Homo sapiens: one gene and its partner. The protein of the gene in region 2 interacts with the protein of the main gene of each other region in a pairwise test. Each region holds a gene or a part of one and is shown on either strand. Other genes may lie near its edges.

Region 1 (6,899 bases), on a different chromosome or scaffold from region 2:
CTCAGTTTCCCTATCTGTACCGTCTTTACTAATGTTGGGGACTGAGGGACAGGGGCCCTGAGGGCAGGCTGCTACACAGCTGGGAGTTTTTTTGTGGACTTCAGTTTGCTCAAACGTTAGGGCTGGTTTTGCCAAATGAAAATGGGCTTAGACGAACATTTCGCAGCCTGAAAATGCAGTGACAGCCAACTCTCAATTGCTTGGGGTAATGGAGGCAAAGATTGCATAAATTAATGAAATCAACAGATAACACCCATCTTCACTTTAACCCTTTCTCAGCTTTTCCCAACTGCAGCCTCCCCCTACACCTGACCCACTCAGTCCAGGCCCCCCAGCCCTGTCCTCCTGGCCCTGACTCAGCACCTGCCCCTCAACCACTGAGCAGTGCTGGCCACCCCCCACCCCGTTTGTTTGTTTGCAGCCTCTTTACAGTCTTGCGTGTGCTTTTCTAGGGAGTCTTAGCTCTGAGATCCCCAGAGCCCTGTCCATCACTGGGCTTCCATGACCTGGACAGGCAGCCTGGGGTCTGTGGTCCCACCGGCCCAGCTGTATGTGTATTTTGTGACTCTTTATTCAACAGGCAGCTCCCTGGCCCCCACGCCATGTTCCCTCTAGGTGCTGGGTGCTGATGGCGCAGAGAAGAGCAAAATAAAGTCCCTACCTCTGAGGAGGCATTCGGTACCCACAGGAAATTTATAAACAGATCTTTAGAATACAGGGCACGGAGTGTGCAGGAATGAGGAAGTGAGGAACACCAGCAACAGGAGACTGGGAGGAGGTGGTAGGGGCTAGGGCAGGCAGGTAAGGACGCAGAGCTGAGGTGAACAAAGGCGAGTGCCAACCTCTATCACAGAGCTCCCCGTCCCAGCCGTCGGTGCAAATGCACTGCCCGGGTTCTCCACAGAGTCCGTGAAGGCAGCCGGGAGAGGTCACGCACTGGTCACAAAGGGGACCCTGCCAGCCAGGCTGGCACCTGCAATGGGTGGGGGAGAAAGGTGGGGACATATGAAGAGGGCAGGGGTAGAGAGGCAGCTCAGGCTACTTTCTGTGGAACCAAGGACCCTTGGGGGTCTTTGCACAGTGGCAGCCGGTGGTCCTGGGAAGTAAACACCAGCCACCTGAATGGGAAAACTTAAAGAGAAAACATGCCAAGCTGAGGGGGCCGACTTGGAGGGGCCCCGAGATCCCGGGGGAGTGCTGCGTTTTGCCGCAGTGGCCTGCAGTGGTCCCACCTGCCCCCCCACCTCTGAGAACGCAGACAGGAGCTGTGGCTGCCCCCCCCCCGCCCCCCCCATCTCCCCAGCTCGCCCCACCAGTTTTCTGCAGGGGCCCGGAAGCTGTTTGCTGCAGCGTAGTGGCCAAGCCCCCTATTTTTTTCTGCCTGACTTCACGACTCCCCAGGCTTCTGCGTGGCCCCTACAAGCTGCCTCTGAGGAGCCACTCTATTACCTGCAAACATTGTCATCCTCGCAGAATCCATTTTGGGGGTTGCAGGCCGGGAAGCATTCAGCCCCTGAGGTACAAGAAAGGTTATACAATTCACCCCACCAGGCCCCAGGCCAAGGCAAAGGCTGTCTTCGCCCACACAGCCCACCACTGCCCTCGAGGGCACCAACAGCCCTCTTGGGTCCTACCAGCCTGGCACACAGTAGGCACTTCCTATCCGAGCATGGATGGGGCTCAGTGCACTCAGGAAAAACATCTCTGCCACGTTCCCAGCAATGAAATGACCACAGTACACTCTCCCTCGTTCTTAGGAGCAGGAGAAACACCTTCTCCTCGGACTCCCAAAAGCAAATACGACACCTCAAGTCCTCCTAACAGCGGGGACGGGGACCGTGGAGGGAAATATGTTGAGCCCTGGGCATGCAGCCTGACCGTCACTTTTGCAACCTGAGCTGAAAAGAGGAGCAGATTTTGAGGTGTTCAACTCCGGGAAAGCCCAGACAGGTTCACCTGGTGGGCGCCCCAGTAAGGCGTCTGCATTCTTTTTAAGGTTCATCCCTATTAAGCCGGGCACCCAGGTCAAATCTTCCCTCTTTCCCCTACCCCAGACTCTTCGCATTAAAAAAACGATGACGACACAGGGTTTTGCTTAGCGGGCTGAGGTTGCAACAACACTGCTTAGAGATTCTGACACTTTAACAGGCACCTACTGTGTGCATTTACTCAACCAGCTCCCCAGCTTTCTAGACAGCCCCCTTACAACCACTGGTGCAATGAGTGGGGGGGCGCTGCAGGAAGGGGGCAACTCTCTCGCTGTCAGAGACAGATGGCCGCTGCAGACAGAAGTGTCGCAGCCCCTCACCTACAGAAACGCGCCACGCAGGAAGGGCTCAGGCTGGGCTTCTCTGGGAATTGGGGGCTAAGACGGCAAAGTCGTCCCCCACTCCCGCCCCGAGACCTGTTCCAGAACGCTCACACAGGGACACCCCAAAGTTGCACCCCAGAGTATTTTCATAGAAGACTCCACAACAGCACCCCATTTTTCCATACCTCCTTGCTCAGCGCACCGACACCCCTCTGGCGCCACTTCTGCAGGGCGGGAAGGGGCTGGGGGTCTCACACATCCCCTGCGCCCTGGGACCCCTGGGACGGGCCTTGGCATGCGAGCGTGGTGGGTAGGGCGAGACAGGCACAGCGCGGGGCTTAGGGCTAGGCGGGACGGGCGGAGTTGGGGCTCACGAGACGGGGCGTGCGGGGCACCGGGCGGCCGGCGGGGAGTCGCAGGCTTCCCCAGAGGGGGCGCGAGCCGGGCCGCCGGGGAACTCACCATAGGTGCTGTGGCCGAAAGCCAGCAGGAGCAAGAGGACGCGCAGGAGGGCTTCGGTCGCGGTCATCTCTGGGCGGCCGGGGTCGCGGTCCCGGGAGCGGTGCGGGCGCGGGTCCGGCTCCTGGCGCCGCACTGGGCTTCTGGTTGCGGACGCGAAAGGGGGCGCGGGCGCGCAGCGAGGGGAAAGCCAGGGCTGCACCGGGCTGCGCGCTGCGCTCTCCACCGCCGCTGCCGGGGAGCTGCCGCCGCCGCCGCGCGCGCCGCCCTTTTCGTACCGCCTCCCCCCTCGCGGCCCCCGCCCCCCGCCCCCGCCTCCGTGCGCACGGGGCCGGCGCCGGCCAGTCCCTGTGACCCCCTCCCCTCGCAGGGCCGCCCCCGACCACGGCGGCGTCCCAGAAGCCCGCTCGCGCACACGGGTGCACTCTTGGCTAGACGGGCACAGGTATCCCGCGAGCGTTTGGTACACGTTCCCTCACACTGTACAGCACGCGGCCGCCGCGCACATACAGGCCTGCCTAGGACAAGTCGCAGGAATCGAACCTGGGCCGCAGACCTCCCCGGAGAGCACAAATCCGCACGCAGGAACACCGAAACACTTATCGCTGAAGTCCCGGGCACACGTGCAATGGTTAGATACCCAGGAAAACACAAAGGCGCACTATGAAGATGTGAACTAAGCACATAATTACACACGCACACAGAAAAACCCCCAGGAAAAGCCCGACGCCCCCTGTACCCCTGGCCATGAAGACGCAGAAAAATGCAGTTGCCCCGTGGCAACCCACACCCCGCAACGGAAACGCACACGGCAACTCAAACACACTGTAGCCCAGACGCCGTATAGACACAGTCCTAGGTGGCAGAGGGTCAAGCGGACCTGCGGTTACCCAACCATGGGCATCCTCCCCCATGTGCCGACCCCCTGCACACAGACGCTTACGCAGAGCCACCTGCACACCCAAACACGCAAACACACGTATAAACAGACGGACACCCGTGCCCGCATTCAGTCACACCCACCCCCGCACACACAGCATCTCAGTCAGGGCCTTAGCCGCGCTGAAACACAAATGCACCGACTCTTACGCACACATGTACGCACAGCCATGCACCTGATACCCACAAGCACACATACCCAGCTGACTCGTGGTCACACACACTGACAAAAACATATACGCAGTCCCCACACACACACGATCGCATCTGTCTTTGTCCACAGTGGCATGCATGGGCAGCCTCACCAATGTGCTCTCACATACACACAATAGCACTCCAGGCACTCGGCACGTATTCCAGACTCACTGGGAGACCTTCTCTGAGGGGTCGCCCGCTGGAGAGGTGGAGGTAGAGGATGCTGATTGCCAGAGACCCTCTTCCTCTGCAGAGCTCCCAGGGAGAGGGAGTGCTCCTCAGACACCCCTCCTCCCCATTGCCCCCGGCTTAGGCTTAGAGCCCTGCTGGAGAGGAAAGCTCTGCACCCCTGCACCCAGTCTGGATGGGGGAGGCTCAGAAAGATAGGGAGGGAGAGGGGTAGGAGGGGATTAAAGATATTTCACCTCCTGGGGGAAGGGTCCCAGGCGTCCCAATCTTTGGGTGGGTCGTTTAGGATACTTAATTTGCATATATTAATTTGCATACATATCCTAGATGCAGGGAGTGGGTGCCCACCCAGCTCGCGGCCTCCCCTTCTTCACAGTGCTGCAGGGGGGTGTGATCTCACCACTGTGAACCTGGAGGCTGGATGCTTTGACCTCCTGGCCCTCTAGTCCAGCCCTGGCAGGTCTGAGCACAGATTTCCCATCTTAGCCATAGATGTGGGAAGGCAGGCCCATGGGCATCCCCAGGCCCACCACCCCTAAGTCAGTGCTCCAGTAAGGCACTCGGGATGGGTACAGGGATGGACAGAGACCAGAGCTGCTCTGGGCTGGCTCCAAGGAGGCTGGAGGGAAACTCCCAGCCCCTGGTGGAAGATATCCCTTCCCTGATGTTATCTGCAGAATGCCCAGATAGGTAGGGGCTGCTGGGAACGGCTTTGGGGACAGGCTGTAGGGAGCAGTTGGGGTGCCCACTGTGTGCCTGCCACATGCCCTTGCATTCCTGTGACCCTACTTTCTTCCGTGGACTCTTTCCTCAAGTCAAGAAACCAACTTCAGTGATGGAAGGTCCTTTGCCCAAGGCCCTTGGCCTAGAACGAGAGTGTCTGGCTGACAGGCCCAACCCTGGGTGCCAATGTCCACTGCATGGTGATCGCCAAGGTCTTCCTGACCAGGGTTCCTCTCTTCCCTCCCTTCGAGGCCCCTGACTTCAGCCTCCAAAATTATCCCAACAGCAGGCAGACCTGGAAGAGCTGAGTTCTCAGCCAGAAGCCAAGGAGGGGTGGAGGATCTCAGGGCTGGGTAGCCCTGGGGCAAGGGCCTCCCAGGCTCTTGCCAAAGTCCCGCAGAGAGGAGACTCCCTGGACTGCATGGAGCACTTAGGGGGCCCCAGTGTCCCCACCCACACACATACCTAGACTCCTCCCTTCCCCATCCAGGTTCTTCCCCCTTCCCACCCCCGCCCCCAGCCCCACCACAGCCCTCCCCAGTTTAGGAAAGGGAGGGAGGCCAGAGGAGGGTATTCTCGCCCAAGGGAGTCTGTCAAAATGTCACAGGCTTACGCTGAAAGGGCACTGCCTTGGCTTGGGGGGCACCTGCTCTCTAATCCTATCTCCATTTCGTGCCCACCAAGGGCCCAGTCTCTTCCATCTGTGAGCCCTGTTTCTTAGCCCATAAACAGGAATGTCCCACCTGTCTCTGAAAGGAACTCCGGTTTTTGTAAGCAGAAAAGCACTGTGCTGACAGGGCCTGGTCACAACCCCTTCCAGCCATTCCTCCAACAGCTGCACCCCAGAGCCCTTGCCCCCGCCAGCTAGAGGATCTCCAAGGCGGGCACCCAGGCTCCACTGGACCCGGGCCCTCTTCAAGAGCCCCATGCAGGGACACTTGAGGGATGGGAGGGGACTTTCTTGTCTCACAGGACCTACAAGCCAGGAAGATTTCTGTTGGCTTGCTCTAATCTTAATAAAGCGTTTGTAAATTCAGGAGGCCGGAGCTTTCTTTTCAGCAAGCAGACACTGAGAAAGGGTAGCTTAGGAGCGGTAGGGAGGGGAGGTTGGTGACTGTCACAGACTTTAAGTCTGCACAGAAGGCGCGAAAATGCCAATGTAGTCCCTTGGGGAGAAGCGGTACAGTCTGCCATTTGCAAGCAGATCCTGGGGGCTGTGGAACGGCAGGCTGGAGGAGCTGGACGCCCCCTCCTCTATCTGCGCATCCCTCCCCTCCTCCCCCCTCCCCTTCTCTCGAGAGCCATGCTCCGTGTACAGGCCCCCGGGATTACAGAGATGAGGCCAGCAGCCCGCAGGTCCTCATAGCATGGCGTGGCAGGCGATCTACACAGGTTGCAGGGACTGGACCTGCCAACTCTGGGGCCAGATCGAGATGCATGAGCTGGACTCCCTCCCTGTAGCCAAGCCGAAGGCTCTGCCTATGGCCCCGCACCCCGCAGGCAAGAGCCGAAAGCAAGGGGAACCTGTCCGGAGGCAGTGTTGCTGGGCTTTGCCGGGGCAGCAGAGGAGCTGGTGATGAGCAAAAGTTTTCCGAGGGAAGGAAAGAAGTGTTGTCTCCAGCCCTTTTTCCTCCCCGCTCCTCTGCTCTCCCCTCCTGTCTGCTCCCCCTCCTCCTTTTCTAAACACTAACTCTTCCTCCAGCCAGCCCCAGACCACTTCGCCCCTGATTAAAGGCAGAAACACTGATCAGGGCAGCTCAGCTGGGTGGAGCTAGAGGGGCCTCTGAGACTTACTAGTCCCGGGCACCAGCGGGGATGGGAGGGCAAGAGCAGGGGTGGCCGGCGAGGGGGCTTCACCCCACCTTCACATTCTGCTCTGCTCACCACCCCCACAGCCTCGGTGGGGATCTCCATGCCTTGAGGCTTTGCTTCTGCCTAGACTAGGTTTTTTTTTTGGTTTTTTTTGTTTTTTTTTTTTGCCGGGGTGGGGGGATCTGAGCCCCCACTGATCCAGTCCTAGTGGGCATCCTACAGACAAGAGATGCCTTTGTCCCCTGTCCCCACACCCAACGTTCTCCATCCT
Region 2 (7,657 bases):
AAATGCATTTGTACATTTCTACAACGTCCATAAATTCTCTTGAAAATAAGAATGTTAACTTCAATTCTATAAAATACACTGTACATTTTAAGACTGTTCTAAATATAGCACACTTCACAATGGACTGTGGGTTTTGATTCCTGATGACAAATGGATTCTATACATTTCAGGGGGGAAAGGTGTAATATGGATGTGAGTTTAAAACTTTTAATTTCTTTTTAAAAATAAATTATTTCTGAAGCATACAATTTATAAAAATTCTATATACAAAGTACAGCAACTGGTAACAAACCCCAGTTTTAATACATTTTATATACGATGTACCAGGGTTTAGCAACCCTGATAGGAGCAGAGGCAATATACATTCTCCGCATATTTAAACATAAAATTTCTTGATGTAAAGAACAAAAATGACAAAAAAACAAACATCATAAAGAGACTTTCATACATGGCAGTGCAGAGCTTTTTTAAATAAAAAGTTGCATTGTTCAACACCATGGCAACCCCTTAGATCAGCATTTTTGGACCCTTAATCCTAAGAAATGTGCTAAGAGATCAGAGTGGTAGCAATGAAATTAAGGTCAAGGGCTCAAACTTATCCAAAACCAATTTAGGGGTTCCCTCTAAGGCAATCGCCACCCACCCTCACCCCCACGTCACTGAGAATTCTGGGCGCAGATACAAACAGTGAAAGAATGAATCGGTAAGTGGGACTTTTCTGTTTACATAGGATTATAATATCCTCACTGGCCACAATCTGTAAAAGTCGATACTGGCACTTTTTTTTGCCCCCTCAAAGGAAATATGCTAATAGACAGCCCCTTTGCAAATATAATTCCTCCTTCCCAACCCTTCAAATTGCTAAGGCCCCACTGGTCAGCACCTTCCCTTTCGAGTCCAGGACTACTGTTCTGTCCCCCACATGCTTGCTTCCTCCCGGACGTCCTGAACACTGCAGCTAGCTTTCTGGACGGCAGACGAGTTGGGAGTTTCTGGAGCTTGGAATTGGGGCGGGGGAGGAGGTCCAAGAAGTCAAGCTCCGGAGAGGAGCTTCAGGGGAAGTGCCCAGAGTCGTGGCCGGGGAACCGGCTACACCAAGTTGACTTGGAAAAAGTTTTGGGAAGTATCCCCAACCATCCCTTCTATCTGTCCCAAGCCACAGGTGCCCGGCGCGGGGTCGAGGCGAGCACGGGAGTGGGACGCGGGCTCTCCCGCAGCCAACGGCGGGGGGCGCGAGGGCTAAAAGAGCGGCCCAAGCAGCAGCAGCAAGATGGAGGCGAGTGGGGTCCAGGCGCCCCGGGGCGCCAAGCGGCCGCCGCCGCCGCTGCTCCTGCGCCCAGGCCCATAGGGCAGGTCCCCGCGGCCGCCCGATGCAGCAGCGCCGCTGCCCGGGCGCGGTGGGTGCGGGACGCCGTCGTCGTCGTCCAGCGGCTGCTCACCACCCGCGCCCCCGGTGCGCTGCTCGTCATCGTAGTCCTCATCGTAGTAGTCGTCCAGGCCCCCGTCCGAGCCGCTGCTGCCGGGGCCGTTGCCCAGCTCGGCGCCGAAGCACAGGCGGGCCATGTTCTCCTTGACCGACTCGCAGATGGGCCGCTCGAGGCCGTCGCACACGCAGTCGTTGAGCAGCGCCGCCTTGGGCATAGCCAGCATGTCCTCAATGACGGTGCGGCATTCGTCCGTGCAGCGCAGCCCGTTGAAGACTTTGCCGCAGTAGGTCAGGTAGCGGCTCAGCGCCAGGTTGCAGCGGCTGTCGCGGTCGCAGCGCCGCCGGGCCTCGGTGCAGCCCATGACCCCGCCCGCGCCGGGGCCGCCCGCGCCGCCGCCGCTCGTCCGGGGCAGGCACGGCTCAATGGCGCGCTTGGTGGACTTGCAGTTCTCGTCCTGCGCGCAGTCACAGTCCTCCAGGGCGGGCCCGCGGCGCGTGTGGTTGAGCTGAATGAGGGCCGAGATGCAGTGACTCGGGCAGCGCCAGCGCGACGAGAAAGAGGCGGCCGAGGCCGGGAAAGCGGCGGCGGCGGCCCCGGGCGCGTCGCCCCCGCCGTGCTGCGCCAGCACCGGCGCGCACGCCTCGGCGTACTGGTTGTAGGCGTAGCTGCACTCCGGCTCCCCCTGGCACTGCAGCAGCGCCTGCCAGCAGATGAGGCGGCGGCCGTGCGCCAGCCCCGATCCCCGCGGCGCCGAGCCCAGCAGCTGCAGCAGCGCCATCAGGCACAGCCAGGCGCCCGGCACTGTCCCCCCGCGGGCCTCGCCGCCGCCGCCCAGCAGCGCGGCCACCATCGCGGGCAGCGGCGGCCGCCGGGAGAGGAGGGGAAAGGAGACGAGGCGCGGGGAGCGGCGGACGCGGAGCCGGTGGAAAAGTTTGTCCAAGTCCTGCCCACTTCTTGCATGAGTGTCTTCATAAATCCATGCGCGCCGCTGGCTGATGCCCCGCTGGTGGCAGAAGGTCCCCTTTCGCTCTGGCTGCGGTGGCTTCCTGGAAATGAACAGCTGTCGAGATCTGGTCCCGCTCTCCCACCCGAGAGCCCTCCGCTCGGCCCCCGGTGGTGGCGGGAGAGGCTCACTGTCGCCCCGGGGGGGTGCGGGCCGCGGGGCCGTGGCGGGGCTGCAGGACCGCGCGGCGCGGCGGGTGCATTTTGCTCCGCGCCTGCAGATCCGTTGTGCGGCCGGCTGTCCCCGTGCCGGCTGCTCGCGCTGCGGCCGCGGCGGCTCCTTCCTCCTGGGCTCAGTGCCTCGCCGCCGCCACCGCCGCCGCGGTCTCTCGCATCGCGCCGCTTCCTGGCCCGGCGTCCGCGCGCTGCCCGCCTTCCCGCGGCCCGGCCGCCCCGCGTCCCCTCCCCCTCCGCCCGCGGCAACCCCGGCCTCCGCAGAGCTCCGGGGAGCTCTTTCCGGGAAGCGCGGGGAGAACAAGAAAGTCGGCGCTGCCGGAGAGCGGCTCCCTGGCTTCACTCGGCGGCAGCTTCTCGGGTGACCAAGAGCCCGGGGAGCGGATCCGCTGAGCCCGGCTGCAGACTCGTTAGCAGCGAGGCTTTAAATACAAAAGTGGGCCGGGAGCCCCCGCGTGGTGCCGCGGTGCCCCCTCATTATGCATGCATGGAAAAGCAAACAAACAAAAACATTAGCAACGCTCCTCCGGCTCGCCGAGCCCCGGCCCCGCGCGCTCCGAGCCTGCCCGCTTTCTCCTTTCTCCACTCTCTTTCGCCCTTTGCTCGGCCCCCTTTCCCGGCTTTTCGAGATGCTATTGGTCCTGCCTGTTGTTGTTGAAAGTTTTTTTTTTTTTTTTTACGAGCCGCTGGAGTGGGGTTGCGGAGTGGGGGAGGGCGGGAGGGTGGTGGGCAGCTCACATTCAGGCATTCAGGGCTTGAAAGGAACGGCTTAGGGAGCCTGACGGAGGCCCGGAGCTCCTCCTACTCTTAAGGAGGCTCGGATATGCAGCCCCAGCTCGCGCACAGAACCAGCGGGCAGGGCTTAGGGGCAGCTGTTTGCATCCGGCTCAGCCACGGGCCTTTTTTGTTTGTTTTTTTTTTCTTTTTTTTTTTTTTTGTAGTTTTATTAATTCTCGCTGGCCCCCATCTGTGCTTTCGACTGGATTCAGAACTCAGTTTATCTTCCAGGCTCCCTGTCTTTGGGTCTTGATCACCACAGAGGGGAAGGGGAGAATCCAGAGATAAAATGTGAGACTGAAACTGTTTTAAAGAAGCATACAAGAAAGAAGCACACACTTTATTAGGGAGATGTTGATGAGATGCTTACAACCCGCCCGCCACCCCCCAGCCCCAGCTAGGCCATCTGGCAGGTACCGCCCGTGCGCCAGGCATCGTTTTCAAATTGCAAGACCGAAATCCAATCAACCGAAATAATTTCTTAGGAAGATAAGCTTGCAACACGTGCAATAATGAAAAAATTTAACTAGCATTAAAAATATTCAGGAATGTCGAGCAATTACCACCTGGCCGCAGTCACAGGACAGAAGACGGAATAAATGGGCACGCACCAAAGGTTTATATTAAAGTGTAAGTTTCAGCCCCTCAGTATATTTAAGGGAGGCTGCTCTGCAGAGGAAACCTCTGCCTTCTCGGCGAGGGAGTTTCCGAGCTACCTTAACTGGGGCGCAACGCAGCCTTCCGCCACCAGAGGCAGCGGGCGTCTGCGGCCTGTCAAAAACTGGCGCTTTTTTCCTCCCCTTTCCGTGGAGAGACTATCAACTCCATCTGTCACAAAAATTAAGGCTAAATCTCCTCTCCAGAAGCAGAGGGAGCCGGGGCTCCGACGCGCTCAGCGTCGGGCTGTCTGCCTCTCCCTAGAGGCCAAGTGAATTTGAAATGGCAAAAGTCACAGCCGGAGGCCCAGCACTAGGAGATTCCTCCGGCTGCGGGAAATCTTCCTGTACCTGCTGAAGCTGCTGCGTTCCTCAGAGGCGCTTGGTCTGCCGTGGGAAGCTGCACCTCTGCAGTCCCCAAAACCAAAATCAAACCTTAAAAGAGCCAGACTGAGGTAAGGCGGACCGTCTTGCTCTGATTTGAGTATTGGTAGACAAACAGCAATATAAATCGATACTAAAAAAATCCAGAAAGGCTGCAACTTCATGGCACATCAAAACAACCATATCCCTGGCTCTCTGTCTCTTTTTTTTTCTCTATTATTTGGAGTTGTCCTCTCAGTCCGGCCTGGAGGACTTGGACAACTCAGACACCTTCTCTGTGTCTGGGATCCCTCCACAGGTAAGGTTCGAAGCCAATTAGACAATTGAAAAATCCCCTCTTGTCTTTAAAGCTTTGTTATTTTAGGCCCATAAGGAACAAAGTCAGCACTCGGTTTCATCTTTACTTGAATTTTTGTTGAGTTCCTTTAGAATAGTGGGACCCAAACCTTAGCACGTATCCTAAAACTCAGATCCCTAGTTTTTGGAGTTTCTGATTTAGTTGGACTGGTGGGTCCCAAGAATATGCATTTCTAACAAGTTCTCAGGGAATGCTGCTCTCAAACTTTGAGAATCACTGCTCTCAAAGTTAACATGTTTCTTTTCTGTGTTGTTGCTGTGTTTTTGGTAACACTTGCCCCACCTTGGCCTTGATACAGCTCTCAGTGGGGTTTAAGGGAGGCCCAAGAGCTCTGCATGCTTTGGGGACTTCTGCATCCCAGTCACATAGCATTAGCATTGCAAGCCTGAGGGGTTCTCAGCCCACTTTTTACTGTGTCATTTCCATTCACCACAATAGGCTATACTGTCTTCTATCTTAAAAAAACATAATAGTAAAACCTTCTAGACTCCACGTCCCTATTCAGTCACTATCCCATTTTCATGAAAACTTGAAAATCTTGCTTTTACTCACTTTCCCCACTCGATTCACTCTACATAATCGAGTTCCATTCGATTATGTAGAGTCGCTAGTGACCAAAACCTTGCTCTACCTGATTGTCACTTCTCAGTCCTCAGCTTATATGACGTTTCAGCAGCATTGGCCATGACTGATCACCTCCTTTTCAAAGCGCTTTCTAAAATTTTGGCTTCCGAAACTCCATACTCCCCTGTTCTCTCATTTTACTGCCTGGTGGCTCCTTCTGTCTCTCAACTCCTTAGGTAACCACATCTAGTGCCTTGATTTTAAATTGCATCTCCTAATTTGATGTTTTCAATCTCAGTCTTTCTCTGATCTCCATATGTATATATTCACTTGGTTCCAAGGACATCTCAAACTTAAGCTTCCCCAAGAGCACTTCTAAATTTCCATCCCCAAAACCTATTTGTTTACTGGGCTTACTGTGGTAGATACCCTCCAAAATTGGTCTCCATCACTTTTCTCCCTACCTTTACATCCTTACTACTCAGATCAAAAGGCAGAGTATAATCCCCTTCCCCTTGAGTCTTGGGTAGGCCTTACTGACTTTGACCAATAGGACATAGTGAAAGTGACTGACATTCTGGGGCCTCCAAGGCTAGATCACAAGAAGCCTTGCAGCTTCTACTCGGGCCTTGTATTAGTCCGTTTTCACACTGCTGATAAAGATATACCCAAGATTGGGCAATTTACAAAAGAAAGAGGTTTACTGGACTTAGGGTTCCACATGGCTGGGGAGGCCTCACAATTATGGTGGAAGGCAAGGAGGAGCAAATCACATCTTACATGGATGGCAGCAGGCAACGAGAGGGCTTGTGCAGAGAAACTCCTGTTTTTAAAACCATCATATCTCATGAGACCCATTCACTGTCATGAAAACAGCATGGGAAAGATACACCCCCATGATTCAGTCATCTCCCACTGGGTCCCTCCCACAATATGTGGGAATTATGGGAGCTACAAGATGAGATTTGGGTGGGAACACAGAGCCAAACCTTATCAGGCCTCTTGGAATACTTGCTCTGCAGAAGCCAGTCACCACGTAAGACATCTGGACCACCTTCAGACTCGCATGCTGTGAGGAAGCCCATGCTTACTATGTGTAGAGGATACATGGAGAAGGAAAGAGATGCCTGGCCAGCTCCCTGCTGTTTCAGCCATGTGAGTGAAGAAGGCACCAGACTTGTGAGTGGAGACACTAACTTGGATGTCCAGCCCAGCTGAACCTTCAGGTGACTCCAGCTCTAGCTGCCATCCTACTGAAGACACATGAGAGAGACCCCAAGCCAGGGTCAAGATCAGCGTGAAGCAAGTGAGGCATTTTGGTGCAAAATGTAAGGAGGCATTGACCTTCATAATTGGGCTCCAAGACTCCAAGAGTGAGTGCCTCCTTAAATTTTGTACTTTAGACACTACACTCACCTTTCTCTAGTTCTGGTCTTGCCTCAAGCAAGAAGAGCAGAGCTTAGCTCAGTCAACCCAAAGAATCCTGAGAAATAACAAAAAAATATTCTTTTAAGCCACTCAGTTTTGAGATGGTTTGTTATGCAACAATAGAGCATTAGAACTTTTCTTCCTGTCCAATTGCTTAGGTGAAAGATGCTAGTATCTGCCTGAATTCTTTCCTTTTCTTCACATTCTACATTCAATTAATGGCTCATCATAGGTGTCAATAAAATATTTGATAAGTTGAATGAATGAAGAATCAGCACTTCTTGTCTTCTAAATCAGCCAACTCAGAACTAGTCCAAATCATTTCTACTACAAAGAACAGTAATAAAGACCCTGAGAGATTAAAGAATACAGAATAGTTCTGAAGTTTTAAAATATAAAATTATATTTCCAAAAGGGTTGACTGGTTCAGTGAAAGAACAAAAACCTCAATCAACAAATACCAATTACCTTTTGGTGCTTTAGCAACATAACCCAGATAAAGTAGGAGGAGATAGACTTCTGCCCTCAGAGGACTCAACAATATGTCACTTGGCCATTTGGAGTTGTCAGAGGCTCTAACCACTTAGCAGAAGTCTTAAGTCACAGACACCCTGTATTAGTGTGTTCTCACACTACTATAAAGACTGGGTAATTTATTTAAAAAATAGGTTTAATCTGCTCATGGTTCAGAAGGCTTTATAGGCTTCTGCCTCTGGGGAGGCCTCAGGAAGCTTACAATCATGGCTGAAGGCAAGTGGAAGCAAGCACTTCTTCACATGGCTGGCAGGAGAGAGAGAGCAAAGGAGAGGGGTGCTACACATTTTCAAACAGCCAGATCTTTTGAGAACTCACTCTCACAAGAACAGTATGGGGGAACTCCCTCCATC

What was found.
Region 1: the proteins of GAS1 (region 2) and DLK1 interact in a two-hybrid assay, tested with the Homo sapiens proteins (one study listed by BioGRID).

What each region holds. Positions count from the first base shown.
Region 1 is NC_000014.9:100,723,010-100,729,908, reverse strand, and holds the start of DLK1 (protein delta homolog 1 isoform 1 preproprotein), read right to left. Parts: upstream 3,018-6,899; 5' UTR 2,841-3,017; coding exon 2,774-2,840; intron 1,514-2,773; coding exon 1,450-1,513; intron 974-1,449; coding exon 843-973; intron 1-842. UniProt on the Homo sapiens protein: May have a role in neuroendocrine differentiation.
Region 2 is NC_000009.12:86,944,503-86,952,159, forward strand, and holds the start of GAS1 (growth arrest-specific protein 1 precursor), read right to left. Parts: upstream 3,005-7,657; 5' UTR 2,278-3,004; coding exon 1,240-2,277; 3' UTR 1-1,239. UniProt on the Homo sapiens protein: Specific growth arrest protein involved in growth suppression. Blocks entry to S phase. Prevents cycling of normal and transformed cells. Binds 20(S)-hydroxycholesterol (20(S)-OHC).